Linked DNA regions of Homo sapiens: region 2 is linked to region 1. The links come from fine-mapping of genetic effects on gene expression. A gene starts in region 1. The other region holds a variant in brackets. All regions are shown on one strand. Distances are between the middles of the regions. Region 1 holds the start of ZNF350 (zinc finger protein 350). Region 2 overlaps ZNF350 (zinc finger protein 350).

Region 1 (15,768 bases):
CAACGAACTCATACTGGAGAGAAACCTTATAAATGCAATGAGTGTGGAAAGGGCTTCGCTTTGAAGAGCCCACTCATCAGACATCAGCGAACACATACTGGAGAGAAACCCTATGTATGCACCGAATGTCGAAAAGGTTTCACCATGAAGAGTGACCTCATTGTACATCAGCGAACTCATACTGCAGAGAAGCCATATATATGCAATGATTGTGGAAAAGGCTTCACTGTGAAGAGCCGCCTTATTGTGCATCAGCGAACTCATACTGGAGAAAAACCCTATGTATGTGGTGAGTGTGGAAAAGGCTTTCCAGCAAAGATCCGGCTAATGGGACATCAACGAACTCATACAGGAGAGAAACCTTATATTTGCAATGAGTGTGGAAAAGGCTTCACTGAGAAGAGTCATCTCAATGTACATCGGCGCACTCATACAGGAGAGAAACCCTATGTATGCAGTGAATGTGGCAAAGGCTTAACTGGGAAAAGCATGCTCATTGCACATCAGCGAACTCATACTGGGGAGAAACCTTATATATGCAATGAATGTGGAAAGGGCTTCACCATGAAGAGTACTCTCAGTATACATCAGCAAACTCATACTGGAGAGAAGCCATACAAATGCAATGAATGTGATAAAACCTTCAGGAAGAAGACATGCCTCATACAACATCAGCGATTTCACACAGGAAAGACTTCCTTTGCATGTACTGAATGTGGAAAATTCTCTTTGCGCAAAAATGATCTTATTACACATCAGAGAATTCACACAGGAGAGAAACCGTACAAATGCAGTGACTGCGGGAAAGCCTTCACTACAAAATCAGGGCTCAATGTTCATCAAAGAAAACATACAGGAGAGAGGCCCTATGGATGTAGTGATTGTGGGAAAGCTTTTGCGCACTTGTCTATCCTTGTTAAACACAGGAGAATTCACAGGTAGTCATTTTGGGAAAGCCTCTTGCCAGATGTAGGCCCTTAAGATATCTGCAAAGAAGAGTAATTTCATGAATGCAGACTACATGGTTGTTTATTTAGTGATCAGTTACTTCATGTTTTGTGTCAGAGAAAACATGTACAAAACATTTGAGAAAATATTTTAGGACATTATGTCTAAAAATTGTATACTGAGAAAAATCCTATGAATGTGGCAGACTATAAAAGCCTTTGGTGGGAAGATAAACCCCCTCAGAAGTGATCATAGATCATGAATAAACTACTAATTCGTGGAAATGTAATAATTATAGGAACGTCTTTGCCCAAAAATAAAACTTCAACAGATTGAGAGAGTTCACACTGGAGAAATACTTTCCTCTGGCAAACCCCTGTGGCAGGGTTTTCAGTAAAATGTTTTGCCTCATCGTGTGCTAGGAAATAATGCAGAAAAAACTTATGAAAACATTCAATGTAGAAGACTTTTAGGAAAATATCAGAGAATTTAATGAAGGAAAGAAGCCTTGGCAAAATGATGGATGAGAGCTTTCTGTCACAATTCTAACCTTAACAGATAATATGCCTCATGTGCATTTGGGAACAGGATAGCTTGAGCCATATTCCTAGTTGCCTTGTCACTGATTTTATACATTTTAAATTGTGACTTCCTCTAATCACGAACTAAAATTTAATATTGTATATAATACCGGAGTATTTTATGCCTGCCTCATTTTATTATATGATTAGCTCCTGCATTTCTTTGGTTCTAAGTTTGTGTTATTTCAGAATAACTAAAGTACTTCAGAATGAAACTGGATACAGTATATTCAGTTCATAAGTGTAATTGACCATACTTGAATATGTTTAAGTTTATAAGTAACATCAGGTGTTATGAAATTAATATAAATAAGATGTTTTTGTAAGTTTTTATTTTGAAATAAGTTTAGATTCACAAAATCTTACCAAAATATTCCAGAGTTCTTGCCCTTAACCCAGCTTCTTCCAAAGATAACAACTTACATAAGCATAGTTCATTACCAAATACAGGAAAGTGAAATTGTTACAATACTGTTAACTACAGAATTTATTTGGAAATCACCAGTTTTAACATGCATGCATTTTTGTTTGTTTTTTATATGTAGCTTTAAGAAATCTTAACACATATATTGATTCATGTCACCACCACCGTAATCGAGATTCAGAATGTTGCATCAATGCAAACTCCCTCATGCTCCTTGTTTATAGTCACAACCTCTCCTCAGCCCTAACCCTTGGCAATCAGAAATCTTTTCATCTTTAGTTTTGTCATTAGTAGCATGTTATAAAAATGGAATCATACAGCATGTACCCTTTTGGTATTGGCTATTTCAACTAAAGCAGATTAACCTGAAATCCATCCAAGTTGTTCTGCATATCATTGTTCTGTTTTTATTGGCCACTAATAATCTATGATACGAATATACCACTATTTGTTTATTCACCCACTGAAGGACATTAGTTTTGTTCCCGGTTTTTCTTACTGTTACAAATAAAAATCCTATGAACATTTGTACACACAGGCTTTGTGTGAGCACAATTTTTTACTTCTCTAGGATAATTACTGCAGAGTATGATTCATGGGTCATAAGGTAAGTGTATGTTTACCTTTGTAAGATACTAACCAGAGTGGTGTTTCATTGCTCACCAACAATATATAGAAAGGTTCAGTTGCTCCACATTCTTCCACTTGATGCTGTCAGTATTTTTTTTGTTTTGTATTGTTTTGTTTTGAGATGTAGTCTTGCTCTGTTGACCAGGCTAGAGTGCAGTGGCACGATCTTGGCTTGCTGCACCCTCTGCCTCCGGGGTTCAAGTGATTCTCCTGCTTCAGCCTCCTGAGTAGCTGGGATTACAGGTGCCTGCCACTGCGCCTGGCTAATTTTTGTATTTTTAGTAGTGACGGGGTTTCATCATCTTGGCCAGGCTGGTCTCGAACTCCTGACCTTGTGATCCACCCGCCTCAGCCTCCTGAAGTGCTGGGATTACAGGCGTGAGCCACCACGCAGGACTGGAATGTTTTATTTTACCTATTCTATTGTGTGTGTATTGGTATGAATACAAACATACCAATTGTATGTGGCCTTCCATTTGCACCTCCCTAAAGGCTTTTTTTTTTTTTTTTTTAAGAGACAAGGTCTCACTATGTTGCTCAGGCTGGAGTGCAGTGGCTATTCACAGGCACCATTATAGCACACTACAGTCTCAAACTCCTGGTCTTGAGAAGTTTTCTGTCCCAGCCTCCAGAGTAGCTGGGACTGCAGGCATTTGCCACTGTGCGCTGCTTAGAGCATTGTTTATTAATGCTGGATAAAGATTTTATCCAGCTGGATAAAGGTTTTATATCACTTGCAAATATTTTTCCATAGATGTGGTTCTTTCTTTTTTTCTCTCAGAGAAAAAGATTTTAATTATGATGAAGTCCAACTTTTTTTTTTGAGATGGAATCTTGCTGTCTTGCCCAGGCTGGAGTGCAATGGCATGATCTCGGCTCACTGCAACCTCTGCCTCCCAGGTTCAAGTGATTCTTCTGCCTCAGCCTCCCGAGTAGCTGGGATTACAGGCACCTGCCATCATGTCCCACTAATTTTTGTACTTTTGTAGAGATTGGGGTTTCACCGTGTTGGCCAAACTGGGCTCAAACTCCTGACCTCAGGTGATCTGTCCACCATGGCCTCCCAAAGTGCTGGGATTACAGGTGTGAGCCATTGCACCCAGCCTTTTTTTTTTTAATGGATTGTGGGGTTTTGGCATTACATCTAAGTATTCCTTCCTTACTGTAATTGATAATTCTTTTTCCACTTCCTTTGACAAAATAATGTAGTTTTGCTTCTTTTTTTTTTTTTTTTTTTTTTTTTTTTTGAGACAGAGTCTCACTCTCTCACCCAGGCTGGAGTTCAATGGCATGATCTTGGCTCACTGCAACCTCCGCCTCCTGGGTTTAGGTGATTCTCCTGCCTCAGCCTCCCAAGTAGCTAGGATTACAGGCACGCACCGGCATGCTCAGCTAATTTTTGTATTTTTAGTAGAGACGGGGTTTCACCATGTTGGCCAAGATGGTCTTGATCTCCTGACCTCGTGATCTGGCCACCTCAGCCTCCCAAAGTGCTGGGATTGCAGGCGTGAGACACCACGCCCAGCCAGTTTTGCTTTTTAATATTTAGCAATATCCATTTAAATTCATCTTTGTATATAGGGTAAGGGTTAATTTAAAGTTCAGCCTATGGTTGCCCAGTTGATTCAACAGTATTGAAAACACTGTCCTCTTTCCATTAAATTGATTTTGAACATTTGTAAAAATCAGTTGCCTGTTCTTGTGTCCATTTCTTGACTCTATTCTGTTGATGTGCGTGTCTATCACTCCACTAATAATCTACGGTCACTCCCATCAGAAATGACATAATATGCTCTATGAGGTAAAACAGCTATGTTACCTCATATAAAATGTTCAAAGCCAGAACCTGGACTTTGGGAAATGTCCCATATCCCTCTCCGGAAGCCCGCCTCCCAGTCTCTCGGTGTTCTTAGAGATGGCGAAGGATGGGGTTGCAGCACCAGAATTCCAGAATCGGAAGTAGGTTCTGATACGTGTTCAGCCTTTGGCAGCTGCTACTGTAGCCTTGAAAGCCTGATGCTGCGTGTGAATCCGGATGGGGAGCTTGTGGGGACGACCATGAAGTGGAAACGCATGTGAATGTCCGTGTTCAGGGGTTTTATTTCAGTTTAGTCACCGAGGAATATGGGTGTGAGAAAGAGACCCTTGGGATGTCAAAGGTTAAGGCTTAGTTTTAAGAGTTTAATGACTGAGGGTCCCACGGACAGAGCTTGAGGTCTATATGTTCACTTTTCATGAGTCTCAGTAATAGAAAACTGGGGAAAGTGTGTCTCAGTGAATGCTGTTTTTTGCTCAGATTTGCAATTTAATATGGGGCTCAGATACAGAGAAGCCCGAGCTAGGAAGAGGAGTGGCGTGAATGAAAGGTCTAGGGGGAGGAGTGTCAAAGGAGTGCCTCTGTGGTAAGTTTTAAATTGAATTTGAAGGCAATTTTATTTAGAGGAAGACGGGGCTTGTCTGTGTTTGAGAATGTAATGAGGCTGGAGGCTTTCAGGTGTGCAGTTGAAGGTTAGTGGTTGCTTTGAGACTAACTGGATGCTGGAAACACTTCCTGTCAGTCTTTCAAGTCCAAATCTGTCCTGAAGGTTTCTATTTAAAAACTTTTTCTTCCTAGGTCCACTATTCTCATTGTACCCATAAAAATCAGAGTAATTCAGGGTGACGAAGTGGTGTCTTTACCGAGGAGTCTTGCTCTGTCGCCCAGGCTGGGGTGCAGTGGCGCGATCTCGGCTTACTGCAACCTCCGCCTCCCGGATTCAAGCGATTCTCCTGCCTCAGGCTCCCGAGTAGCTGGGATTACAGGCGCGCGCCACCGCGTCCGGGTAATTTTTGTATTTTTAGTAGAGACTGGTTTCGCTTTGTTGGCCAGGCTGGTCTGGAACTCCTGACCTCAGATGATCCGCCTGCCTCGGCCTCCCAAAGTGCTGGGATTACAGGTGTGAGCCACCGTGCCCCACTTCACTTTCTTAAATGTTGTGTTTAGAAGCACAAACTTAAAAAAAAATCAAGTCCACTTTATTAATTTTATTTTGTTTTGTGGGTCATCCTTTACTCTCCTCTCAGAATTAACTCACGTCCATGAGGATTATCTCCCTTTTCCTTCTCTAAGTTTTATACTTTCTCTTAAACTTAGATCTATGATCTATTTTGAGTTAACTTTTGTGTATGGTTTGAGGGTCCTAACTCATTTTTCTGGATGTGGATATCCAATTATCCCAGTGCCGCTTGTTGAAAAGACTATTCTTATTGAATTGTCTTGGCACTTTTGTCAAAAACTCTTAACAATATTTTTATACTCTCAATTCTGGCTCTGCTCTTCCCATTGGCACCTTTACTAAAAGTGGCCTTTCTAGGAGGCCCAATTCCTTTAGTCTGTCGTGGCCAGGCTCACATCGTAATTCATTCTCAAAATCTCTTTTCTCTCCTCTCCTCTCCTCTTTTCTCTTCTTTTCTCCTCTTTTCTCTTCCTTCTCCTCCTCCTCTTCCTCCTTCTTCTTCTTCTTTTTTGTAAATAATAATCATTTTTTCGAGGCCAGGCGCGGTGGCTCACACCTGTAATCCCAGCACTTTGGGAGGCCGAGACAGGCAGATCACGAGGTCAGGAGGTCGAGATCATCTTGGCCAACATGGTGAAAGCCAGTCTCTACTAAAAATACAAAAATTAGCTGGGCGTGGTGGCGCGTGCCTGTAGTCCCAGCTACTTGGGAGGCTAAGGCAGGAGAATCGCTTGAACCAGGGAGGCAGAGGTTGCAGTGAGCCCAGATCTCGCCACTGCACTCCAGCCTGGCGACAGAGCAAGACTCCGTCTCAAAAAAAATTATAATTTTTTTCTTTCTTCACCACCCGCCCCCCCGAATACCTGCTATTTTTCTGTTCTTAAAAACCGCTTCCTGCAAGCTAATTTTCGCCAGACGCTTTCCCGTGGGTGTCTGCCTACCTGATGTGTTGCCTTTTCCCTTTCTACCTGATCTGTTACCTTTTCCATTTCCAATTCATTCTCTGGGATACCTACACCTGGCTGCACTGTTACTTGTCTTTTTCAAAACCTTTTTTTTTAAATTTAACAAAGTGGATGGAAAAGCGCTAAAGGCAATTTAGCTTGCCCCATATTTGCCTGATAAAGCCTGAGTCTCTGAAAATCTGCCCCCTTTCGCAAGACTTTAAGTGCCAGGAAACGAGGCGATTTCAGTGACTTCTCTTCTTCCCTGGCTCCTGGCTCAAAAACCTGCCACTGCCTTCTGTGCGTCCAATTTTCAAACATGGCTGCCGTCAGGAGCCACGGCTATGGGCGCGGCCATTTTACAGAGTAGGAAATGCCGTAAATGCGCTTGTCCTTGCTCTTTTAAACATTTTAGGTTCTCCTCGGCCGCCGTAGGTGGACCATAAACCCGTGCGAGGACTCCAGAAGTAGGAGCAGTTTACGGAAGTGTAACGTTGAGGCCCTTCTTGTGTATCTGGAGAAAATAGAGGTCAGTGTGTGGTTTTGTCCCTGAAAGTTTTTTGTCCTAGTTCAGGTTTTGTCTCAGTGGAAGGTTTGGGAGATCTGAGGACGTGGTGTACCCTGGACCACATAGTTTTTGGCAGGAAGACTGGGGAGCGCCGGGGTATAGGCATTTGGGAGGTACCTGGTGGGAGTCTGTGATCCCCCTGTCTGTGGTCCGCGTGCCTTTGGTGTGAGTACAGTGACTAAGGGTCTGTAGTGATCAACGGCCGTGTCCTAACTGTCAAGGTATGGATCACTCTGCTTGTAAAGGATGGAGGTGGCGATTAGGATCGATGCGGCGTCTGCTTCGGGTTCAGGATTTAATTTGGAACTCAGTGATGTTGGAGTCTGGGAGGATGTCCATCGCTGTAGAGTGTCTGGTCCGTGGTTCGGATGAGTAAGAGGCATGGGGCCAGTGTCTGTGGTACAAAGGCTTGTGAGGGCTGAAGCTTTCGAGACTTTGGAGCCCTGGGTCCTGGGTTGAGGTTCGAACCTCGGTTACTGGGGCAAAAGGCGACACAGCCCCCAGCATTAGTTCGAAACCATATATCTACTCTTCTGATCCTTGGGGTGGCTATTTACAGATCGGGGGGTCAAGTTCAGTCATACCCTCCGATTATATATTGTCTATGGCTGCAAAGGCAGCGGTTGAGTTGTTGTGACAGAGACCTCGTGGCCGGCAAAATCGAAAATGTTGCCAACCTCTGCATTCACTTCTTTTATTTTTTATTTATTTTTTTTATTTTTTGAGACGGAGTTTCACTTTTGTCTCCCAGACTGGAGTGCAATGGCGCGATCTCGGCTCACTGCAATCTCCGCCTCCCGGGTTCAAGCGATTCTCCTGCCTCAGCCTCCTGAGTAGCTGGGACTACAGGCCCACGCCACCACGCCCGGCTAGTTTTTGTATTTTTAGTAGAGACAGGGTTTTACCACGTTGGGCAGGTTGGTCTCGAACTCCTGACCTCAGGTGATCCGCCCACCTTGGCTTTCCAAAGTGCTGGGATTACAGGCGTGAGCCACCGCGCCCGGCCTTCACTTCTTAATATATAGTGAGTGTTGCTTGCCCGCCTTATATTCACACTTTCTTAACAGAATCTCCATTTCGTGAAGTATTCATCCCTGTGGCAAGGCGACCCAAATCCCAGTTTCTTAGTAAGGCCTTGTTGGTCTTAGCCAATCTTGCTGGTTCCAATTGCCATTGCTAGTGATAGGTTTGACATGGAAATGAGCTTAGGCGTATGGTGCAATTCTAGCCAACTATGTATGTGAAAATCTGCCTGGGAGTTTCTGAGGGAGCATTTTCTTTTTTAAATATGTAATTTCTTGAATCTCTTTTTCCATGTTCGTGATGATATCGCCTGAAAATAACATTAATTTTCTGTCTTACTTTGTAATGCTTATAATTCATTCTTATCTTAATGCATTGGCTCAACTTTCCAGTATAAAGTAGGAAAATAGGGTGTTAGTGGACGTTCTTGTTTTATTACCCACCTGTAAAATTCACCCGTTGTGTTGTCTGGAGTTAACACCTTTCCTGGAGGTAAACTGTTTGGTATGGTTGATCTCTTCCTTTACTTTGTTAATTTTTCTACATTTATATATTTTAAATGTACAATTTAATTATCATGGAGGCAATATATGTATAAGCAGTCATTGCCCAGGTCAAGAAATAGAATATGGTCAGCACACCAGTGGTGTTCTGTGAGTCTTTTTCCATTCTCACACCGAAAAGTATTTTAGGCTTTTCTTTATATAATTAATCATTATTTATCATTGTAGTTAATACAGTTTTGCCTATTTTAAACTCTGTATATCAGTGGAATTGTACATCACTCTTTTTTTGTGTCAGCCTTCTTTTGCTCATTATTGGTGAGGGTCTTTCCTGTTGCATCTGAGTATATTTTCTTTGCTCAATGACAAGGATCAGGCGAATTTACAGTAAATATTTTAGGGCTTGCAGGCTACATATGGTCTCTTGCATATGCTAATTTGCTTTTTGTTTTACAGTCTTTCAAAAATGTAAAAAGCATTCTTGCAGGCTGGACCAAAGGTATAATAGGTTTTCTATCACATTCCATTATGTAAAATATAGCAGTTTTTTCTATTATTAATTACATTTGTATTACCTAAAGCTTGTATTATTAAGAATAATGCATGTGTGAAAATTTGTGTAAATGTCTTTTGGTTCATATGTGCTCTCATATGGGGGAGGCAGAGATGTATATCTAGATGTGCACCTCGGAGGAAAATTGCTGCTTCATAGAGTGTGTATAAACTCCGTCTAAATAGATGTCAAACTGTTTTCTAAAGTGGTTGTACCACTTACAGTTCCCCTAGCAGGATATAGTTTGCTTTATAGGGTGCTTTATGTGGCCTCTTTAAAATATCTGGCCATACCCTAATAACATTGAGAGATTCTCCTATATTAATGTTCTTTAAAGCTTTATTGATATGTTTCTACCATTGAAATTGACAGTTGATTCTAAAATGGTTTTTGTGTATGTTGTGAGGGGGGTTTTAACTTTCTGTCCCCATCCCCAGTACCATTTATTGATTTTTTTTTTTTTTTTTAATTTTTTTAGATAGAGTCTTGCTCTCGTCGCCCAGGCTGGAGTGTAGTGGCGTGCTTGGCTCAACTGCAACCTCTGCCTTCTGGGCTCAAGTGATTCTTGTGCCACGGCCTCCCGAGTAGCTGGAATTACCAGCAGGTGCCACCTTGCCTGGCTAATTTTTGTATTTTTAGTAGAGATGGGGTTTCACCATGATGGCCAGGCTGGTCTCCAACTCTGGCTCAAGTGGTCCACCTGCCTGAAGGGGGCCTGCCCCTCCACACCTGTGGGTATTTTTTGCAAGGTGGAAATGAGAGACTGAGAAAAGAAATCAGACACAGAGAGAAAGTACAGAGGAAGAAAAGTGGGCCCAGGGGACTGGTGTTCAGCATATGGGGGACCCACACCGGCACTGGTCTCTGAGTTTTGTTAGTATTTATTGATTACTATTTTTACCATCTTGGTGAGGGGGGTGTGGCAGGACTATAGGGTAATGGTGGGGAGAGGGTCAGTAGGAAAACATGTGAGTAAAGGACTCTGTGTTATAAATAAGTTTAAGGAAAGGTCCTGTGCCTTGATGTGTACGTAGGCCAGATTTATGTTTGACTTTACACAGACATCTTAGTGTAGTAAAGAGTAGTATTGCCGCCAGTATGTCTCACCTTTAGTTATAAGGTGGTTTTCTCCTATCTTAGTAAATAGAATGTATGATTGGGTTTTATACCGGGACATTCCATTCCCAGGGAGGAGCAGGAGACAGATGGCTTTCTCTTATTTTAACTGTAAAGAGGTCTTCCTCTTTCACTAATCCTCCTCAGCACAGACCCTTTACGAGTGTTGGGCTGGGAGATGGTCAGGTTTTTCCCTTCCCACGAGACCATATCTCAGGCTGTATCAGTGGGAGGAAACCTTGGACAATACCCAGGCTTTCTTGGGCAGAGGTCCCTGCGGCCTTCCGCAGTGCATTGTGTCCCTGGGTACTTGAGACTGGAGAATGGTGATGACTTTTACCAAGCATACTGCCTGCAAACACATTTTAACAAAGCACGTCCTGCACAGCCCTAAATCCATTAAACCTTGAGCCAACACAGCACACGTTTCTGAGCACAGGGTTGGGGCTAGGGTTACAGATTAACAGTATCTCAAGACAGAGGAACTTTTCTTTGTACAGATTAAAATGGAGTTTCTTATGTCTTCCTCTTTCTATATAGACACAGTAACAGTCTGATCTCTCTTTCCCCCACACCTTCCTCAGCTTCCCAAAGTGCTAGGATTACAGGCGTGAGCCACGGCGCCCTTAGTTCCATTTATTGAAAAGACAGCTTTTATCTACTTCCCTGTAGTGCTATCATTGCCATTGAGTCTCTATATGTGCTTAATTCTGCTTATAAGGATTTTATTCTGTTCCTTTGTCCTATTTGCCTGTTATTGTACTAATATTGTGCTGTCCTAATTAAAGTAGCTTTATAAGTCCTCATAACTGATATGGCAAGTCTTCTAACTTTTTTTTCAAACTTTAAAAAAAAGTTTATAGCTATTTAAACTTTTCAGTATCAGTTTGGGATTGTGACTGTGATTTCATTGAATCTGTAGATTTGGGAGACTTGACATTTTTAAAATGCTTTGTTTTCCAGCCCATCTTTATAGTACATCTTTGCATTTATTTAAAACTGTTAAAATTTATCTCAGTAAATCTAATTTTAAAAATATATTCGAGTTCTTCTAAATGATATCGTTTATGTCAGCCTAAAAGAGGAAACTGCACAAAATACAATTTTAAAGAGTTTACTTGAGCCAAAATGAGGACAGCTGCCTGGGAAAATACTTTCAGGTTGCCTTGGTTAAGTGCTCTGTTAGGATTTTGTTAGAAACAGGTTTTAAAGTCAAAAGGGAACAAACCGTGAGCTGACATAAAGTTGTTTGGCAAGAATTCTCATTGGTTTACAGAAATAATATCAATTAACAATTGGCTGTACATTGTTAACTATGGGGTTTTATGAGTTAGGATGTCCAGTGAATGGCATTTTATGGCTACTCAGTGTGAGTTAGTCTAGAGCCTACATAGCAAGTGGCTTTAAGAGATAATTATTTAGCTTGAGGGGGAAATGAGATGTGACTATTGTCACATTAAATTTTTTTTTTAGTTTTTAATTTTTTCTTTTTTCTTTTTTTCAGGGGAACCCCTATCAGAAAGACTGCTGTCACATTTTAATGCCTCTCTAGACCTGATAATTTAAAGGGAGTCACATTCCTCAGATAAAAGATTCATTTCTTTCTCATTTATAAATTTTATTTTGTTTGTTGATGGTCTGTTCTGTCAGTTACTAGGAAAGGTCTGTTAAAGTCTTTAGTCTGAATTTTCTATTTCTTGTTTTTGGTTCTATTTTTTGCTGTATACATTTCAAGACTGTTGTTAGGGGTATACATATGGTGTATTTCTATGAATGAAGAGCCAAATTTCACCTCTTTTCAGTGAGCATTGTTTCTCTTTCTCTCTGTTAATTCTTTAGGATTTCTGGTCAGTTTTGTCTGAGATATAGTTATAACAGATTATCTTTGGTTACTCTCTCTGTGGCATATTGTCTCCAACCTTTTATTCTCAAGCTTCCCATATCATTTTGGTTCAGACATATCAACTATAATAACCGCATGTGGGGAGGCTGAGGCGGGTGTGTGATGAGATCCGGAGTTGAAGGCCAGCCTGACCAAGATGCTGAAATCCGATCTCTACTAAAAATACAAAAATCAGCCAGGCGCGGTGGCGGGCCGTAACCCACATGGACCCATGGGACTGCACAAATGGGGGTGAACGTGGGAATAAAGACAGGAGACAAAAGAGTATATTTGGGAGAAGGGGTCAGGGAGCACCTTACCTCTAGTGGACAAGGGCCCTGAGCTTTACACAGCCCTCCGTATTTATTAGGCAAAAGAGATAGGAGGGTGGGGGGGTGGAAGAAGGGGTCGGCTGCTCAGTTCAGAGTAGGCTTGCAAGACTGCATTCTCTAGATGTCGCAGTAGATAACCTCGGTGCCAGGGAGTGATTGCCTCCAGCAAACCTTATGTTGGCAGGAGCAGTCCTGAGTTTGCTCACATCCTGTATTCATGATAAACAGTTTGCTGTTTGATCATATAGCCTCCAGCAGAATGCTGAGTTGGTCACGTCCCACAGGCCTTTGGCTCCCTGCATATCCCCCTTTCTGTTTATGTATTAATTGAAAGAATGTAAGGCTGGGCTGGGAGGCTCTCATTCTCCAATTGGTGGTCCATCCGATTTTACAGACTATAAACCGAAGACAGAGACAAAACAACATTATTCCAAGAACTACATATAAGATGTTAATGTGGTGCCTTAGATAGGTCCAAGGGTTGAGGCTCTCCAGGCCTTCCTGGAATTCGGTCCAGTCTTCTAAAGAAGGCTGAAATTCTTGAGTTTGCCTATTTAAATCAATAATTTTGTTTTGTAATTCACCAATATCAAAGGTGATGTTGGATGTGAAAGCTCCTTGCAAATGGGCTTTCACAAGGTCCCACGGATACTCACTTTGGTTATATTCTGAGTTAGTTACGCAAATATGAATGTGATTAAAATGATGACGCAATTGCTGCTGCAACTGCAAGCTTTGTACCTGTTCTCCTAACCACAGAACCATGGATTTCAACATTGCCACTTCAGTTTGTAACTCAGTGTTAATTTTATTCTGAAGTAGCCTCGCTTGGTCAGCTGTGCGTGTCCAGTTCTCCACCTACTGAGATGTTTGAATAGAATTATGCAGAGTTACAGAAGATATCACAACAGAAGTTATTAGTTTGACCAAGGAAACAATAGCAAAAATTATGCCTAAGGCTCTATGGACACAGTGAGTAAGCTGAGTTAGAAGAAGTGTTACAAAAATGCAAAGCAGGTGTGGCAGCCCAAGGCTCAGACAGATTAACAAGAATCCATAGCCCAGGGATGCAACCCAACATTATCAAAGTAGAGATATTATGTGTTCGTAATGTGCTATGATTAATGCAGTGTGATATAACTGGCAAGATTTACAGGTCAATTGGGTATTGTTTACCTGAAGCTGGTTCTTCTTAGCTGCCAAAAAGGCATAAGGATTAAAAACACAAACTGTAAACTGAGTGGTGATATTCTTTACAAATGCAACATTAAGACTGTGTTGCTTACTATTGCTATTATTAGACAGTGTTCCAATCCAGATGTTGCCATTCATAAATGGGAGTGCTGCCTTCCATATAGTTTCTTGAATTGGTCCTTTCCTCCCCAGATAATGCAACTGAGGAAGAGGTGGGCTAAAGCCTGCTCCATGCCAAGCAATCTGAGCAGCAGACTGGGATTGGATTCTGCTGTTGTATAAAGAAGAAGCATTAAAAGCTTGCCGCCAATGCCAGTGAAGTTTGTGCCATGATTTCTGACTTTCACCTTTTCCATCTAATTGACCTTTAGGTTCCCAATCCACAGTGTCTTCAGTTGACATATATTGTTTACTAGCCAGTGGATCAAGACACTGGGTCCACAGAGTGGGGTAGGAACTATTGAATGGAATCCATTCTGTATAATCAGCACAATTAGGGTGACTGGACTGGGAATGATTGGTTAGCACACCAGTTACATTAATAGAACCAAGACCTAATAAGTACATAATTTTTCCATAGTGACTCAACCATGTTTGAGCTTGAATTGCAAGACAGCTATGGCTGAGCGACGTCTTTGTGGTGATAAACAAAGGGAGTCCTTCCAGTGGAGTGGTATAATTAATGACATTGTTCTGAGAGTCTAACTTTTCTATGTCACGGGGAGTTAGGGGTCCTGGAGCCCACTCTCCCTGATCGTGATAAATCTCAGGAGGAGTGAGCTCCAAAGTATAGGCCATACTGCTGGGGGATTGGGAACATATGCCCAATATGTTTTTGCCTGTGCACAGGGAAAACGTAGTGCACAGGACATTATGGCTAACATGGCCAAGAGCATGGAATCAGGGGTTTTGCCTGTCCCTGACACTCCAGTAGTTTCTCAGCTTCCTGTGTGGTTTTCTTGAGTTGTCCCCAGGTTATGGGGGTTGATGTCATCATGACTCTGGTTGGCCTTCTCTCCATCTTTGCACTCAGGCTCAGCTGACTCATAGCTCGTACAGGAGGGACTGGGCCCATGGTTGGCCACCCTGGGTTCCTCCAGTCTCCCATTCCATGGTCGCATGCACCTTGAGGGCACCCACATGGCTTGTCCCATCTCCTGTAAACACACAAGCATACCCTCTTCCCCAGGTCAGTAAATCTACCGGGCCTTTCCATTGTTGTCCTTCTGGGGATTTCCATAACACTTTCAGATAAACTTTGCTTTTTTCCTCTAACACTTGCCAATGTCTTTCTGCTGGAGTCTTACCATCCATACCGGGAGTCAGAAAATTTAAAGTAAATAAGGCTAAATGTAGTTTTGATTGAGGTGGTAGTTGGCCTCCTATACCCCCTTTTTGTTTTTTCAACATGCGTTGTAATGTTTGATGTGCCCATCCTATAGATATGACTGACACATCAGCTCCCATGTCCATAAGCCCATAAAATTTCTTTCCTTTAATGTGTACTACACAGGTAGGTCTATTAGAGGCTATGGGTTGGGAAAGATAGATTTCCCATGTAGTTGTGCTCCCAAACCCTTTATTTCCTCATTTCTCTTTTCATGGGGAAGGGTGTAATTCACAGGGAATAAGCAATAATTGAGCAATATATTCTCCCAGTTCAAAAACCCAAAGATTTTGTGACATTAAAACTACTTGAATTTCTCCTTCATAATCGGAGTCAGTCATTCCTAGGACTACAGTGATGCCTTGCAAGTTAAGGCAGCTTTTACCTAAAATTAGTCCTGTGTATCCTGTCGGTAAAGGTCCCCAAATACCCAAATAGGTTTGTCTCCCCTAACTAATGTGATTCTTTCTCTGGTGGGTAGATCTAATCCTGCACTTCCTGGTGTTCCTGGGTTGAGGGAATCAATGTGCCTCCAGGAACCCATCCCTGAAGTGGGGTTGTGGTCTGCATTGGGAATGCCCTCATTGTTTGAGGGGCCCGGGTGCAGGCCCCCATCTCATTTACCAATGGGGTGCCATTCTGATGAAATTTTGAGCAGCACTGGGTAGCCCAGTGATTTCCTTTGTT
Region 2 (15,768 bases), 21 kb after region 1:
GGGTGGATCACGAGGTCTGGAGATCGAGACCATCCTGGCTCACACCGTGAAACCCTGTCTCTACTAAAAATACAAAAAATTGGTCGGGTGTGGTGGCAGGTGCCTGTAGTCCCAGCTACTCGGGAGGCTGAGGCAGGAGAATGGCGTGAACCCAGGAGACGGAAATTGCAGTGAGCCGAAATGGTGCCACTGCACTCCAGCCTGGGTGACAGAGAGACTCCATCTCAAAAAAAAAAAAAAAAAAAGTTTCTGGCTGAGTGCAGTGGCTTATGCCTACTTTGGGAGGCTTAGGCAGGAGGATTCCTTGAGCCCAGGAGTTTGAGACTAGCCTGGGCAATCTAGTGAGACCTTGTCTATATTTAGTAAAATTGAAGAAAAGAGAAAAAGTTTTCTTTTCACATATTTTCTTCCTAATCCACTTCTGTAAATGGTTGGTAATATTTACTTCCTGTCACTGTATCTGTTTGTGGATCTATGTCTATATATGTATTAATAAAAGTGTGAGTATATATGAATCTATCTGTAGATATATATATTCATTATGATATACACATATATATATTTTACATGATAGAATCATATTTCAAAGAACATAGCAGCCAACTTGAAGGGACTCTTCATTGGCCGAAGATGCTACACTTTGAACATCCAAAGACCAATGATTGCAAATGATTGAAGAACATTAATTATATAAAATTCCATCAGTTTATAGCTATACTTGAAAAAAATGCATTTGTCACCATTGGGGGTTAGGAGAGAATCAAGTATTTAATCTGAAAAATGATAAAAGATCATAAAGGTTTTGTGTGTGTGTGTGTGGCGGGGGTGGGTTGACTATGAGTTTATTTTTTACTTTTACTTTTCTGCTTTTTTTCTTTTTTCCTTTTTTTTTTTTTTTTAATTGAGATGGGGTCTTGTCATGTTGCCCAGGCTGCTCTTGAACTCCTGGGCTCAAGCAATCCTCCTGCCTCCCAAAGTGCTGGGATTACAGGCATAAGCCATTGTGCCTGGCCCTCTTGGTAATTTTGTATTACTGACCCATACTCTGCTCCTTGGCTATAAATTCCCACTTGCTTATGCTGATATTTGGAGTTAAGTCCATTCACCCTCTACCACTGCAAAATCCCATTACATTTGTCTATATACCTGTCATAATGGCCCTGAATAAAGTCTTCCTTACTGTGCTTTAACAATTCTCATTGAATAATTTTTTTAAACATGTATAGCTTAATTAAGGAGGTGAGATTCCAACGCCTTTGCCATATTCTGAATAGAGGTAAGTCACTAGGCCAGTCCCTGCTCAAGGAGAGGGTGTAGAGCACCCAATTCTGTCCCTGTTTGGGCGCCACTTGTAACCCGCACAGACCTAGGGGGACTGAACACAGTGGGGTGAACACAGGAATAAAAGACAAGAGACAAAAGTATATTCGGAGGAAGGGGTCAGGGGGTACCTTGCCTCTAGTGGACAAGGGCCCTGAGCTTTACACAGCCCTCTGCATTTATTAGGCAAAAGAGATAGTTGGGGGGGTGCAGTGGAAGTAGGGGTCAGCTGCTCAGTCCAGAGGAGGCTTGCAAGACTACATTCTCTAAATGTTGCAGTAGATAACCTCAGCACCAGGGAGTGATTGCCTCCAGAAAACCTTCTGTCGGCAGGAGCAATGGTGAGTTTGCTCACATCCTGCATTCATGATAAACAGTTTGCTGTTTGATCATATAGCCTCCAGTGGAATGCTGAGTTGGTCACGTCCCACGGACCTTTGGCTCCCTGTAAGTGGGAACTACATAAAGGTGTGAACACTGGGAGGGTGGAGTTCATTGAGCCATCAAATCTGCCTGCCATAGATCTGTCATATAGTAAACTATTTTTGAGTGTGGATTGAGGTAAGACTTTCACTTTACTTTTTTCCAAATAGATAGCTATCTCACATAAATAATTTAGAATGGGTAAACCAACCAGGATTAAGTACTTGTATCATCTACCAAGTGTGTTCACTGGCCTCTGTAATAAAATGAGTATAGAGTGTACCTTCTGCTGTTCCCTGGGTCTTCAATGACTCAATTTCCCACCAGCAGTATCCTTTAAAGCCATCCTGCATCCTGAGACAAGAGATTGACAATTCATTGATAAGTAGTCTTAATTGTCACTATTACAGGGCTGTAGGTCCTTTGCCAGCCATGCCTTTCAGTCCTAAATGGTCTTCAAGGTTGGGCTGTGTTGTCCAAGAGCTGAGGACCTTACATTTATTGTTCCAATATTTATTGGCTATAATGATTTCTGTGGAGCAGTCAGCTGTCAGAAAATTTTGTCTCCTTTGTAGGTAACCTGTCATTGGTCTTTGGATTTTTTTATAGTCTCCCTTTGTATCTGGTGTAATTTAGTTTCAATCTGTTGTGCCTACGTGTAGACTTCTTGCTTGAAAAGTTGTTGGATTTCTTGAGTTTGAATTTTGGAGTGTTTAATCAGTTCTGAAAAATTTTCAGTGTTAGATCTTTGGATATTGTTTCTCCATTACTTGATTTTCTCCTTCTTCTTGAGAAATTATCAAACTCAAGGAGGTCATAGGAACCCTCAGTTTATAATTAGTCCATCAGAAAAATAGGAGGCCTGGATTTGTGATATATGGTTGGCCCTCCATATCCATGGCTTCCACATCCATGGATTCAACCAACTGAGGATTGAAAATATATATTTTTTAAGCATCTGAACTGAGCACATACAGACTTTTTTATTGTCATGATTCCCTAAACAATATAGTATAACAACTGTTAACATACCATTTACATTGTATTAGATATTATAAGTAATCTAAAGATAATTTAAAGTATATGGGGCTGGGCACGGTGGCTCACTCCTGTAACTCCAGCACTTTGGGAGGCTGAGGTGGGTGGATCGTCTAAGGTCAGGAGTTTGAGAACAGCCTGGCCAACATAGTGAAACCCCATCTCTACTAAAAATACAAAAAATTAGCTGGTTGTGGTGGCGGGCACCTGTAATCCTAGCTACTCGGGAGGCTGAGGCAGGAGAATCGCTTGAACCTGGGAGGCGGAGGTTGCAGTGAGCCAAGATTGTACCATTGCACTCCAGCCTGGGAAAGAGGAGCAAAACTCCGTCTCAAAAAAAAAAAAAAAAAAATTAGCCAGGCGTAGTGTCACATGCCTGTAGTCCTAGCTACTTGGGAGGCTGGGGCAGAAGAATTGCCTGCTCCTGGGAGGCGGAGGTTGCAGTGAGCTGAGATTATGCCACTGCACCCCAGCCTGGGAAAGAGAGTGAGTCTCCATTTCAAAAAAACAGAAATGTATATGGGAGGATGTGCATGGGTTACATGCAAATCTGCAAGTACTATTCCATTTTATTTTATTTTATTAGAGACAGTCTTGCTCTGTTGCTTAGGCTGCAGTGCAGTAGCATGGTCATAACTCAGTGTAGTCTCTAACTCCTAGGCTCAAATGAGCCTCCTGCCTCAGCCTCCCAAGTAGCTGGGACCACAGGCACTCACCACTGTGCCTAGCTAATTTTTTAATTTTTTGTACAGATGGGGTCTCATGTTGCCCAGGCTGGTCTTGAACTCCTGGGCTCGAGTGACCCTCCTGCCTTGGCCTCCGAAAGTGCTGGGATTACAGGTGTGATCTACTGTGCCTGACCAATACTGTGCCATTTTATATCAGACACCTCAGTATCCTCAGGAGGTCCTGGAACCAATACCCTACAGATACTAAAGGATGGCTGTATATATGTCTTTCATTTGCATGTATCTAAAATAAATATATGTACATATATTCATATATATTTACATATATAAAATGTATAAATATATTGTTTTTAGGTTAGCAAGATTTAACTTCTACACTTTATAGAAACTTCCAATTGGGTGAATGGAGGATGACTGAATATACAGTTACAGAATATTATATTAGGACTTTACTTCTTCCACATTGTATTAAAAAAAAAACTATTTGGTATATGCACACAGCCTGTAGAGTGGAAATGAGCAGAAAAACTTTAGCATTTCTTCCACATCATCAAAAAGACATCACTTTATTAAACAGGACTGTTATTACAGGAATCCATAACACTGGAGGATGTGGCTGTGGACTTCACTTGGGAGGAGTGGCAACTCCTGGGCGCTGCTCAGAAGGACCTGTACCGGGATGTGATGTTGGAGAACTACAGCAACCTGGTGGCAGTGGGTGAGGACAGCTGCCCTGTGTCACTCAGAGGGTGCCTAGTCAGTGGCCTTCCTTTCTCAGATGCCTACCTCTTTGGAATGCCTGCAGTACTCTGAAGTGGTAGATTCTCAGATCCTTCTCTTGCTCCCACACAAGACGGTGTAATCTACCCTCTTGTAAGAGAAAAACCTTGATGTTACAGATATGAAACGAAACTTTCATAGTTTCAGATAAGAAACTAAATTTTGGGTATTTTAAGAAACTCAAGTTTCTTGAAATGTAACATTCTTCCTTCTTGACATTGCCAGCCCAATTTGATATGTCTAAGTCCTCTATCATTTTCCATGAACAGGGTATCAAGCCAGCAAACCGGATGCACTCTTCAAGTTGGAACAAGGAGAACAACTGTGGACAATTGAAGATGGAATCCACAGTGGAGCCTGTTCAGGTGAGAGAACCCACAAGACAGAAGGCTATGGAAGTCACATTCTAGACAGTCAGAGAAGGCAGCACAGCTGTGAAGGGGGTTTGAGGATATGTAAACAGTTCCTCTACTCATCTGTCTCCCAGTGTGAGACCAGTTTTTCTTTGTAGGAATTTAGAGTTAAAAAAAAACAAAACAAAACAAAAACTCTTTATCTCCTCAGAGATCTGATTATTTTATCTACATATTGTTTGTTTGCCTGCATAATTTTCTTCTTCCTCGGGTTTCAAGTATTTCCCTTCTTCATGTTGTTCCACCTCTCTTGTTACGAAATTCCACCTTCCAGGCCTCTTTCCAAAGAGGAAACTTTGAAGTCCTCACTGTTTTCGGACTCCCACCCCTTTGTGCCCCTTGGCTAATGCTGACCTCCCCTCCTAACACCTCCCCTGTGATGGATGTGGCTTCCTCAGGGTAAACTGGACTTTCGCTGTGCCTTGGCTTCCTTCGCTTCTCTTTTTCCTTATTCTTAGGTTCTCCAAAGGTCCCGTTCTCCATTTTCTCATCTGTGCCCTTCACTCTTCAAAATTGCCTTCATTCTAGTAAGTTTAAACTCCTTCCGCTCCCTGGAGGAGAGTCCCAAACTGACATCTCCCTGTTGTTATCTAACACAGATTTTAGTTCTGTGTAATTTACTTCATGGCAACTCTCCCCTGAGTTCCTAGTAACTGCAAGGAACTAGAATCATCTTTCCTCCAAGAAAACCATTAAGTTTGGATTTTCGTTTGTTCCTGTACATCCTGAATCTTGGCCATCTGGGTATTACCTGCCTGAAGAGCTCTCTTCTTTAAAGGTCTCTGCTAGTCATGATGCATCTCTAAGTAAAAAAGTCATTTTTTTAACATCCTACATTCTCAACTCCCGCCTACTTCCATTTGGTTCCTTTCTGTATTTAATAATTTGCTTTCGTTTTTTTCCCCATCGTATTCTGATGACACCAAGTCCCAGTAAACCATGTTACCTGTCAAATTTCTCATTTCAGTGATCTCTGTGATATAATACCATCTTGCTCACAAAGAGATTTCCATCCTCTTTCCTAAACCCTGCCTGGTGTGTTCCACACATATGATTACTTCCCTGACTCATTCCCTTAAAAATTATTCATTATTATTATTTATTTTTATTAATTTATTTTTTTTTTAAGACAGAGTCTTGCTCTGTGCCCAGGCTGGAGCGCAATGGTGTGAACTTGGCTCACCGCAACCTCCACCTCCTGGATTCAAGCGATTCTTGTGCCTATCCCCAACACCAGCACCATACCTGGCACACGGTGATCATTCAGTAAGAGTATGTGGAATGAATGAATCTGTTCTTTGGACGAAATGGGCCTCCAGCCTCTGGTCTGCTGGTCACAGTGAATTGCTTGTATTTTAAGGTCTGTTTTGCAAGGCACATTTAGAAAGCAGCCAAATCTGTCTTTATTATTAGTGATCTAACCTTGTTTTATGCTAACTGCTTTCACCTTTTAGTTTGTTTATACTATTACTTTTTGCCAATGTGCAAGGAACATTAAACATGGAGTTTTATTTACACTCAGGTCATAGGGTTATTACTAAGAGACACCTCACATCAAGGCATTAAAAAAAAGAATACTTTGGGGCCGGGTGCAGCGGCTCACACCTGTAATCCCAGAACTTTGGGAGACTGAAGCGGGCAGATCACCTGAGGTCGGGAGTTCGAGATCAGCCTGGCTAACATGGTGAAACGCCGTCTCTACTAAATATACAGAATTAGCTGGGTGCGGTGGTGCATGCCTGTAATCCCAGCTACTCGGGAGGCTGAGGCAGGAGAATCGCTTGAACTCAGGAGGTGGAGGTTGCAGTGAGCCGGGATCATGTCACTGCACTCCAGCCTGGGCTACAGAGTGAGACTCCGTCCCCAAAAAACAAAAAAAAAACAACAAAAAATACTTTGGCTGTGAGCCGGGATTGTACCACTGCACTCCAGCCTGGGCGACAGAGTGAGACTCCGTCTCCCAAAAACAAAACAAAACAAAAAATACTTTGGCTGAGCACAATGGCTCACCTGAGGTCAGGAGTTCGAGACCAGCCTGGCCAACATGGTGAGACCCCGTCTGTAGTAAAACTACAAAAATTAGCCGGGCATGGTAGCAGGCACCTGTAATCCCAGCAACTTGGGAGGCTGAGGCAGGAGAATCCCTTGAACCCGGGAAGCAGAGGTTGCAGTGAGCTGAGATCGCAGCATTGCACTCCAGCCTGGACAACGGAGTAAAACTCCATCTTAAAAAAAAAAACAAAAAAAACAAAAAAACCACAACAAACTTTTACCCCAAATCTAAATGATAGAAATCTTTGTTCTTTTCTTTCTAGACATATGGAAAGTTGATCATGTGCTGGAGCGCTTGCAGAGTGAAAGCCTGGTGAACAGAAGGAAACCATGTCATGAACATGATGCATTTGAAAATATTGTTCATTGCAGCAAAAGTCAGTTTCTGTTAGGGCAAAATCATGATATATTTGACTTACGTGGAAAAAGTTTGAAATCCAATTTAACTTTAGTTAACCAGAGCAAAGGCTATGAAATAAAGAACTCTGTTGAGTTTACTGGAAATGGGGACTCCTTTCTTCATGCTAACCATGAACGACTTCATACTGCAATTAAATTCCCTGCAAGTCAAAAACTCATCAGCACTAAGTCCCAATTCATCAGTCCCAAGCATCAGAAAACACGAAAATTAGAGAAGCATCATGTGTGCAGTGAATGTGGGAAAGCCTTCATCAAGAAGTCTTGGCTAACTGATCACCAGGTAATGCATACAGGAGAGAAACCCCACAGATGTAGTCTATGTGAGAAAGCCTTCTCCAGAAAGTTCATGCTTACTGAACATCAGCGAACTCATACAGGAGAAAAACCTTATGAATGCCCTGAATGTGGCAAAGCCTTTCTCAAGAAATCACGGCTCAACATACATCAGAAAACACATACCGGAGAGAAACCCTATATATGCAGTGAATGTGGAAAAGGCTTCATCCAGAAAGGAAATCTCATTGTACACCAGCGAATTCATACAGGTGAGAAACCTTATATATGCAATGAATGTGGAAAAGGCTTCATTCAGAAGACGTGTCTCATAGCACATCAGAGATTTCACACAGGAAAGACGCCCTTTGTGTGCAGTGAATGTGGAAAATCCTGTTCTCAGAAATCAGGTCTCATTAAACATCAAAGAATTCACACAGGAGAGAAACCCTTTGAATGTAGTGAATGTGGGAAAGCCTTTAGCACAAAGCAAAAGCTCATTGTCCATCAAAGGACTCATACAGGAGAGAGACCCTATGGCTGTAACGAGTGTGGGAAAGCGTTTGCGTATATGTCGTGTCTGGTTAAGCATAAGAGAATACACACAAGGGAGAAACAAGAGGCAGCCAAGGTGGAAAATCCTCCTGCAGAGAGGCACAGCTCATTACACACCAGTGATGTCATGCAGGAGAAAAACTCTGCTAACGGGGCGACTACACAAGTGCCTTCTGTGGCCCCTCAGACATCATTAAACATCAGCGGCCTCCTCGCAAACAGGAACGTAGTCCTTGTGGGACAGCCAGTGGTCAGATGTGCAGCCTCAGGAGATAACAGAGGATTTGCACAGGACAGAAACCTTGTGAATGCAGTGAATGTGGTTGTGCCTTCCGTGATCAATTATGTCTTATTTTATGTTACAGAAAACCCATAGGAAGAAAACTCAGATCTATGTGGAAAAGGGTTGAGCAAAAATTTGTAGTTCATTATGTGGCCGAAAAGCATACACTGAGAGAACATGTATAAGGCTGAGATAGCCTGATAAACTCATCCTATTAAAATGTATGCTGTGATACACAGGCAAATTTGATGTTAACCTAAGCACATACACAGCAATTGCTCGACTGTGTCAATTAAATGAGTAAAGGAAGCCCAAGTACTTTTAAGTGGAGGAAATGAAGTACTGTGAATTTTTAAAACAGATGAGATAATTGGTGT[C/T]GGGAGTGTTGCAGTGACTGAAAAGCTTCATAAGGGGCAGTTGGTGGGAAAGGGCTAATACTGTAATGGTGGAATGTGGGACACATATGTGTCAATTCAGTTTCCTTAGACCAGTGCCAGTGTGGAGGATTAATTGAAAACCAGGACCATAAACTTTCAGAACTTTGTATTATGCAGAGGGATCTGTGAAACTAGTCAATTTGTTTCATTAAACAAATATTTTAAAATTATTTCCTTTGTACCTTGTCCTGTTCCAGGAGCTGAGGTCAAAGAAGAAAAAGTTTGTGGTCTCCTGGAGAGTTTGTGGGGTTAATTTTAAGTGGTATCATTACACTCAGGCAATCTAGTCAGGCGGTGCAAATATCTACATTAGGTGAAATGGACATGGAGTAACTGTGTCCAGGGGACGCGATAATTTATTGTTCAAGGAGTAGCAGAAGGACTGCTGTTAATGGTACTTAAGCACCTTAGTACAAAAAGGAGGGCTTTTTGTTTGTTTGTTTTTGCCCGTGTCTTATCTCTCCAAGAGATTACAAATTCCCTGCTAAGTTTTGTAGCTACTTAAATTTTAGAATTAAAGAAACTGAACACAAAATTTAAAAATTCAGTTCCCTCACTGCTCAAGAGCTGTATATGTGAGTAGAGGCTACTAAACTGGACAGCAGAGTGAACAGAACTTTCAGACAATGAGGACTCTTTGTCATTATTTCCAACATCCCAGAAAGTTATGCTGGAGAGGCTGCTTTGCATGATCTAATATTTCCCAACACATAGAAAAACAAAAACTAATTATGTATTGATTTGGAGAGAGAATGATTTGGAAAGAGAAGCGTATTTTGTCATTGAAGGGAATGACAGTTGTAAAGAATAGAATTGTCACTCACAACTTTTGTGTGATTAGAAAGACTTAGCCAAATATAAAAGGGGCAGAGCAGAAAAGGAAAAGGACTCTTAGAATAAGTAGAACACAAAGGAGGAGGAAAATCTTAGTCTCTGAGAATGGATGAGACTGTAACAGATGGGAGGAGGTGGGTTTCTTTTGGGACGTCTTAGAGATGACGCTTTTATTTGTCCATAAGACCTATCACCCGCTAGGGTTACCATTTCAGAGATCCCAGCTTCTCTGTGACCTGCTGAACTGAGATGTGATTTTTCTTTTCTTTTTTTTTTTTTTGAGACATGATTTATCTTCATCATTCTCACTTTTCTGGGAGTAGGTCTCTTGGCCTTCTTTATCTGGTTTTTTAACCTTCATCCCATATGGATACACTGTCCAAGTTACAGTAAGTGCTGCTCATAGGAAAATAAATGGAAATTTGCCTTGTGGCTAGGTCAGAATTCAACAGAAATCCTGGGTTACTAGGTAACCTTTTTTTTGAGATGGAGCCTTGCTCTGTCGCCCAGGATGGAATGCAGTGGCACGAACTCAGCTCACTGCAAACTTTGCCTCCCGGGATCAAGCGATTCTCCTGCCTTAGCCTCCCGAGTAGCTGGGATTACAGGTGCCTGCCACCACGCCCAGCTAATTTTTTGTATTTGTAGTAGAGATGGACTTTCACCATGTTTGCCAGGCTGGTCTCAAACTCCTGACCTCGTGATTCACCCACTTCGGCCTCCCAAATGCTGGGATTACAGGCATGAGCCACTGCGCCTGGCCACTAAGTAACTTTTATATATCATCACTGTGCAAGGCACTGTTTTAGATACAGTAGGATGGATCGGTGAACAATACAGGCAAAGGAATAACCTTTATAAACTTTACCATTGAGTGAGGCAGAGAAACAGATTGTACGATGTTAGGAAGGAGAAAAAGACTAGTAGTGGATACTAATGCATACGTAGTGATGGGGGCTTTTAAAAATATGTTATTTTTTTTCTCCAAGGGAAGGCTTTTCTGGATGTAATTTGAGCCAAGACCTAAGTGTACTGAGGAGAGCCTGTTACAGCATTTGTAAGCACAGAATACTCCAGGAGTATTTGTAATTGTCTGTGAGCTTCTTGCCGCAAGTCTCTCAGAAATTTAAAAAGATGCAAATCCCTGAGTCACCCCTAGACTTCCTAAACCAGATCCTCTGGGGCTGGAACCTGGCACTCTGCATTTGTAATGAGGGCTTTCTGGTGCACACCTAATTTTGTGCATCTTTGCCCTAAATCCTGGATTAGTGCCCCATCATTACCCCCACATTATAATGGGATAGATTCAGAGCAGATACTCTCCAGCAAAGAATCAGAAATGGGCGCTCCACCAACCAGGCCCTATCCACATCTGGCCTTTGTGAATCTGCACATCCTTCCATGGTAAGGTCAGGTTGCTTATGCTCTATCAGGGTCTAAGGATGAGTTGGCCAGGCCTACCCTGAGCAATTGCTTAACGTACCTTTCAGAGCTTGACCTCCCAGATGAAGGAGGCTCAGTGCATACCTAAGCTTGGTACACATCATGTCTGCTCCCAAACCCAAGATCCTTATAGTTTCACTGAAGATCACCCTTCATCTGCTCCCATGACCTCAGTCCCTCCTGGGCCAAGAGGCAGTCCTGCATAGTGATTTGGAATGTATCCTGAAGTCACACTGCTTAGTTTGAATCCTGCCCTGCCATGCCCAAGCCATGTGCCATAGAGCAACTAATTTACCAAGGTCTTGACTTTAGCTTTAAAATATCTGCCTCAGGTTTGTTGTGAGAAGTAAATGTAAAGTCCTTAAAACAGTGTCTAGCAAGAAACACAATTAATACAAGTAATGTTATTAGTCCCAGTGAGGGGAAGAGGAGGAATCAAGAGTATAGGTGTGCCTGAACTTAATCAAAACTGTGACTTGATGACAAAAAGGTTGCCACGCACTGAGCCAAGGATTCCTCATATAGCATACTTTTTAAGCTTAATAGAGCTGTGATTATGAAACTCTCTAGCTTTAAACTTTGAAACTTGCAATGACTGTTCTGCTTGGGGTCTGGACAATGGCAAACATCCTTAAAATGGCCATCAAGTCTGCATGTTCCGGTTCTTTCTTCCCTCTCCCATACTCCACCTTGCTCTCCCTGTTCTGACACACTGGCCCTCTTTTGGCCCCTCATATGCTGCTGACATCCTTTCATCACCTTCAGGCCTCTGTGCATGCTCTTTCTTCTGCCTGAACTTTTCTTTCCCCCCATTTTCTGCATTTTTCCTCCTTCAGGATCTTCAAACATCACTAATTCAGAGCAACTTTCCCTCACCAGTCTGGCCTTCCATAGGATCGTGTTCCTCTTCTTCCTAGCACTTAGGGGAACTGCAGTTTAACATTTTGTAGATTTCCATGTGCATTCCCCATCTGGATTCTAAACTTCCTGAAGGCAGAGAGTGTGGGGAAAAGAAAGAGAGATCAGACTGTTACTGTGTCTATGAAGAAAGTAGACATAAGGAACTCCATTTTGTTCTGTACTAAGAAATTCTTCTGCCTTGAGATGCTGTTAATCTGTAACCCTAGCCCCAACCTTGTGCTCACAGAAACATGTGCTGTGTTGACTCAAGGTTTAATGGATTTAGGGCTGTGCAGGATGTGCTTTGTTAAAATGTGTTTGCAGGCAGTATGCTTGGTAAAAGTCATCACCATTCCCCAGTCTCGAGTACCCAGGGACACAATGCACTGCGGAAGGCCACAGGGACCTCTGCCCTAGAAAGCCTGGGTATTGTCCAAGGTTTCTCCCCACTGAGACAGCCTGAGATATGGCCTCTTGGGAAGGGAAAGACTTGACCCTCCCCCAGCCCGACACCCATAAAGGGTTTGGGCCCTGGAGGATTAGTAAAACAGGAAGGCCTCTTTGCAGTTGAGATAAGAGGAAGCCATCTGTCTCCTGCTCGTCCTTGGGAATGGAATGTCTCAGTGTAAAACCCAATCGTAAATTTTGTTTACTGAGATAGGAGAAAACCGCCTTATGGCCGGAGGTGAGACATGCTGGGGGCAATACTGATCTTTACTGCACTGAGATGTTTGTGTAAAGTCAAACATAAATCTGGCCTATGTGCACAACAAGGCACACACAGCACCTTTCCTTAAACTTATTTATGACACAGAGTCCTTTGCTCACATGTTTTCCTGCTGACCCTCTCCCCACCATCACCCTATAGTCCTGCCATATCCCCCTCACCGAGATGGTAGAGATAGTGATCAATAAATACTGAGGGAACTCAGAGACCAGTGCTGGTGTGGGTCCTCTGTATGCTGAGCGCCGGTCCCCTGGGCCCACTGTTCTTTCTCTATACTTTGTCTCTGTGTCTTCTTTCTTTTCTCAGTCTCTCATCCCACCTGATGAGAAATATCCACAGGGGTGGAAGGGCTGGCCCCCTTCAAGAGAGCAGGTCTGTTTTTTCCTCATCATTTCACCTCCAACATTGGGCACTAGATCAGGCACCTCGCAGATGCTGAGACAGTATTTGGTTGAATTAAGGAGTGTTGCTCCAACAGCTTTCAAGCTACTTAGCTGCCAAGTGGCAGGCTGTAGATTCAAATGTTTTCTGGCATCTAAAACTTTTTTTTTTTTTTTTTGCTTGGAGGGTTTGTTTTATTTTATGATCTCATCCTTAGATTACCCTGTGATCAGCCTCCACTCCTAGGGCGATAGAGACTCTACTGGCTGTTTATTTTTACTCTGAAATAGTTTGACTAGGTCACATAGTCATGCGATTCAAAACTTAAAGCTGTACAAAAAAGCACATTTGTGAATATCTTATCCTGTTCTCAATCCTAGTTTTCCCCTGACCTTCTAGCTTTTACAGGTAAACATGTTTACTGTGAATCCGTCCAGTGTTTCTTTTTATAATACAAGTATATATTATTTATTTGTCCTTTTTTCAAAAGGTGGCATACAGCATACACTCTTTTGCATCTTTTCTATGTTTTGTTTGTGACGGAGTCTTGCTCTGTTGCCAGGCTGGAGTGCAGTGGTGCGATCTCAGCTCACTGCAACCTCCGCCTCCCAGGTTCAAGTGATTCTCCTGCCTCAGACTCCTGAGTAGCTGGGACTACAGGCACGTGCCACCACAGCCAACTATTTTGTATTTTTCATAGAGATGGGGTTTCACCATGTTGGCCAGGATGGTCTCTATCTCCTGACCTCGTGATACACCGCCTCGGCCTCCCAAAGTGCTGGGACTACAGGTGTGAGGCACCGCGCCCAGCTGCATCTTTTCTATGTTTAATTATCACTGAGCAGCAGCACAGCACCTTGAGGGTAAGTGAAGAAGGAAAGACTGTAGCCTGTCAGCCAAATATGGTTATTTGTTCAATAGTCTTATTATTGAAGTGCTGTGTTCCAGTTTTTGTTCTGAGCACTGGGGCTAAAAATAAATTATAGACTTCTGCCTTTGTGGAACTCACAGTCCATTCTGAACAGCAGTTAAGTGAGCAGATGATGATGATCAGGAAAAATGATCTTCAATTATTCCCGGAAGAGAGATGCTTCCTCTATTTCCCTATTGAATGCCTTCTATAGTTCCCTTCCTTAGCCCCACTTAAGAGTTGCAATTTTATATTTAATGATTGCATTATTATAAATAAGACAAAACTGAGAGGCATCCCAGAATGCTGTCTGAAGAAGTGACATTTCAAATGATTCATGAAAGGACAAGTATAGTAACTAATATTCCCTCATGTTTTCCTGTGTGCCAAACACTTCACAAGAAGGGAAAGTACTTGCAAATTCCTGGTAGCGTATAAGACCACAAGATACCTCAGAAGGGGCGGAATAAGAATCAAATGTACAGCATAGAGTAATGGAACCTGAGAATGGAGAATCTGGTGTTTGCTTGTGTACAGCTGAAGGGGGCCAGCCCCTCCACACCTGTGGGTGTTTCTCGTCAGGTAGGATGAGAGACTGAGAAAAGAAATAAGACACAGAGACAAAGTATAGAGAAAGAACAGTGGGCCCAGAGGACCAGCACTCAGCGTATGGAGGACCCACGCCAGCACTGGTCTCTGAGTTTCTTCAGTATTTATTGATCACTATCTTTACAATCTCGGTGAGGGGGATGTGGCAGGACTATAGGGTAATGGTGGGGAGAGGGTCAGCAGGAAAACACGTGAGCAAAGGACTCTGTGTCATAAATAAGTTTAAGGAAAGGTGCTGTGTGTGCCTTGATGTGCACGTAGGCCAGATTTATGTTTGACTTTACACAAGCATCTCAGTGCAGTAAAGAGCAGTATTGCCCCCAGCATATCTCACCTCCAGCCATAAGGCAGTTTTCTCCTATCTCAGTAAATAGAATGTATGATCAAGTTTTACACTGAGATATTCCATTCCCAGGGATGAGCAGGAGACAGATGCCTTCCTCTTATCTCAACTGCAAAGAGATCTTCCTCTTTCACGAATCCTCCTCAGCCCAGACCCTTTATGGGTGTCAGGCTGGGGGATGGCCAGGTCTTTCCCTTCCCATGAGGCCATATCTCAGGCTGTCTCAGTGGAGAGAAACCTTGGACAATACCCAGGCTTTCTAGGGCAGAGGTCCCTGTGGCCTTCTGCAATGCATTGTGTCCCTGGGTACTTGAGACTGGAGAATGGCGATGACTTTTACCAAGCATACTACCTTCAAACACATTTTTAACAAAGCACGTCCTGCACAGCCCTAAATCCATTAAACCTTGAGTCAACACAGCACATGTCTCTGCAAGCACAAGGTTGGGGCTAGGGTTACAGATTAACAGCATCTCAAGGCAGAAGAATTTTTCTTAGTACGGAATAAAATGGAGTTTGTTACGTCTTTTTCTTTCTACATAGATATAGTAATAGTCTGATCTCTCTTGCTTTCCCCCACACTACTGGCTTCACATGGAAAGACAAACAATGGACATGGATGATTGTGCCTCAGGAATATACTCAGAGTCCAACTTATTTCTCAGAAATATTGAAACCAAATGTCTTATATGCTGCATTTTTGAAAACTATACTTTAATACAATATGTGGATGATTTCCTTCTTTGTTCAGAAGATGAGAAAGCTGCTACAAAAAGATGGGATTCACTTGTTACAAAAATTGCTTTCAAAGAGACATGGGGTCTCCAATAAAAAATCTTGAGTTCTGTCTACAATGAGTAAAATATTTAGAGTTATCTATTGTCCAAGAAAAGCCTTTTTATTGATGCAAATAGAATAAAACAAATATTTTCCTTGCT

The links.
Region 2: its variant is fine-mapped to the expression of ZNF350 in whole blood (TOPMed, PIP above 0.99).

What each region holds. Positions count from the first base shown.
Region 1 is chr19:51,978,054-51,993,821 of GRCh38, reverse strand. ZNF350 (zinc finger protein 350) reads left to right here and starts at 6,982. Exons shown (of 5, transcript NM_021632.4): 1 at 6,982-7,052. It overlaps ZNF615 (zinc finger protein 615), which reads left to right. Exons shown (of 7, transcript NM_001199324.2): 7 at 1-2,490. The coding sequence ends at 942. ZNF350-AS1 (ZNF350 antisense RNA 1) reads right to left here. Exons shown (of 3, transcript NR_103847.1): 3 at 12,455-12,895. RefSeq lists enhancers at 6,816-7,055, 6,642-7,517.
Region 2 is chr19:51,957,425-51,973,192 of GRCh38, reverse strand. ZNF350 (zinc finger protein 350) reads left to right here. Exons shown (of 5, transcript NM_021632.4): 3 at 4,062-4,188; 4 at 4,520-4,615; 5 at 6,979-8,853. The coding sequence ends at 8,339. All of the region lies in intron 1 of ZNF350-AS1 (ZNF350 antisense RNA 1), which reads right to left. Among named protein-coding and RNA genes, the nearest start is that of ZNF350-AS1, 16 kb to the right of the region's middle. The variant C/T (reference allele first, on the strand shown) is at 8,624.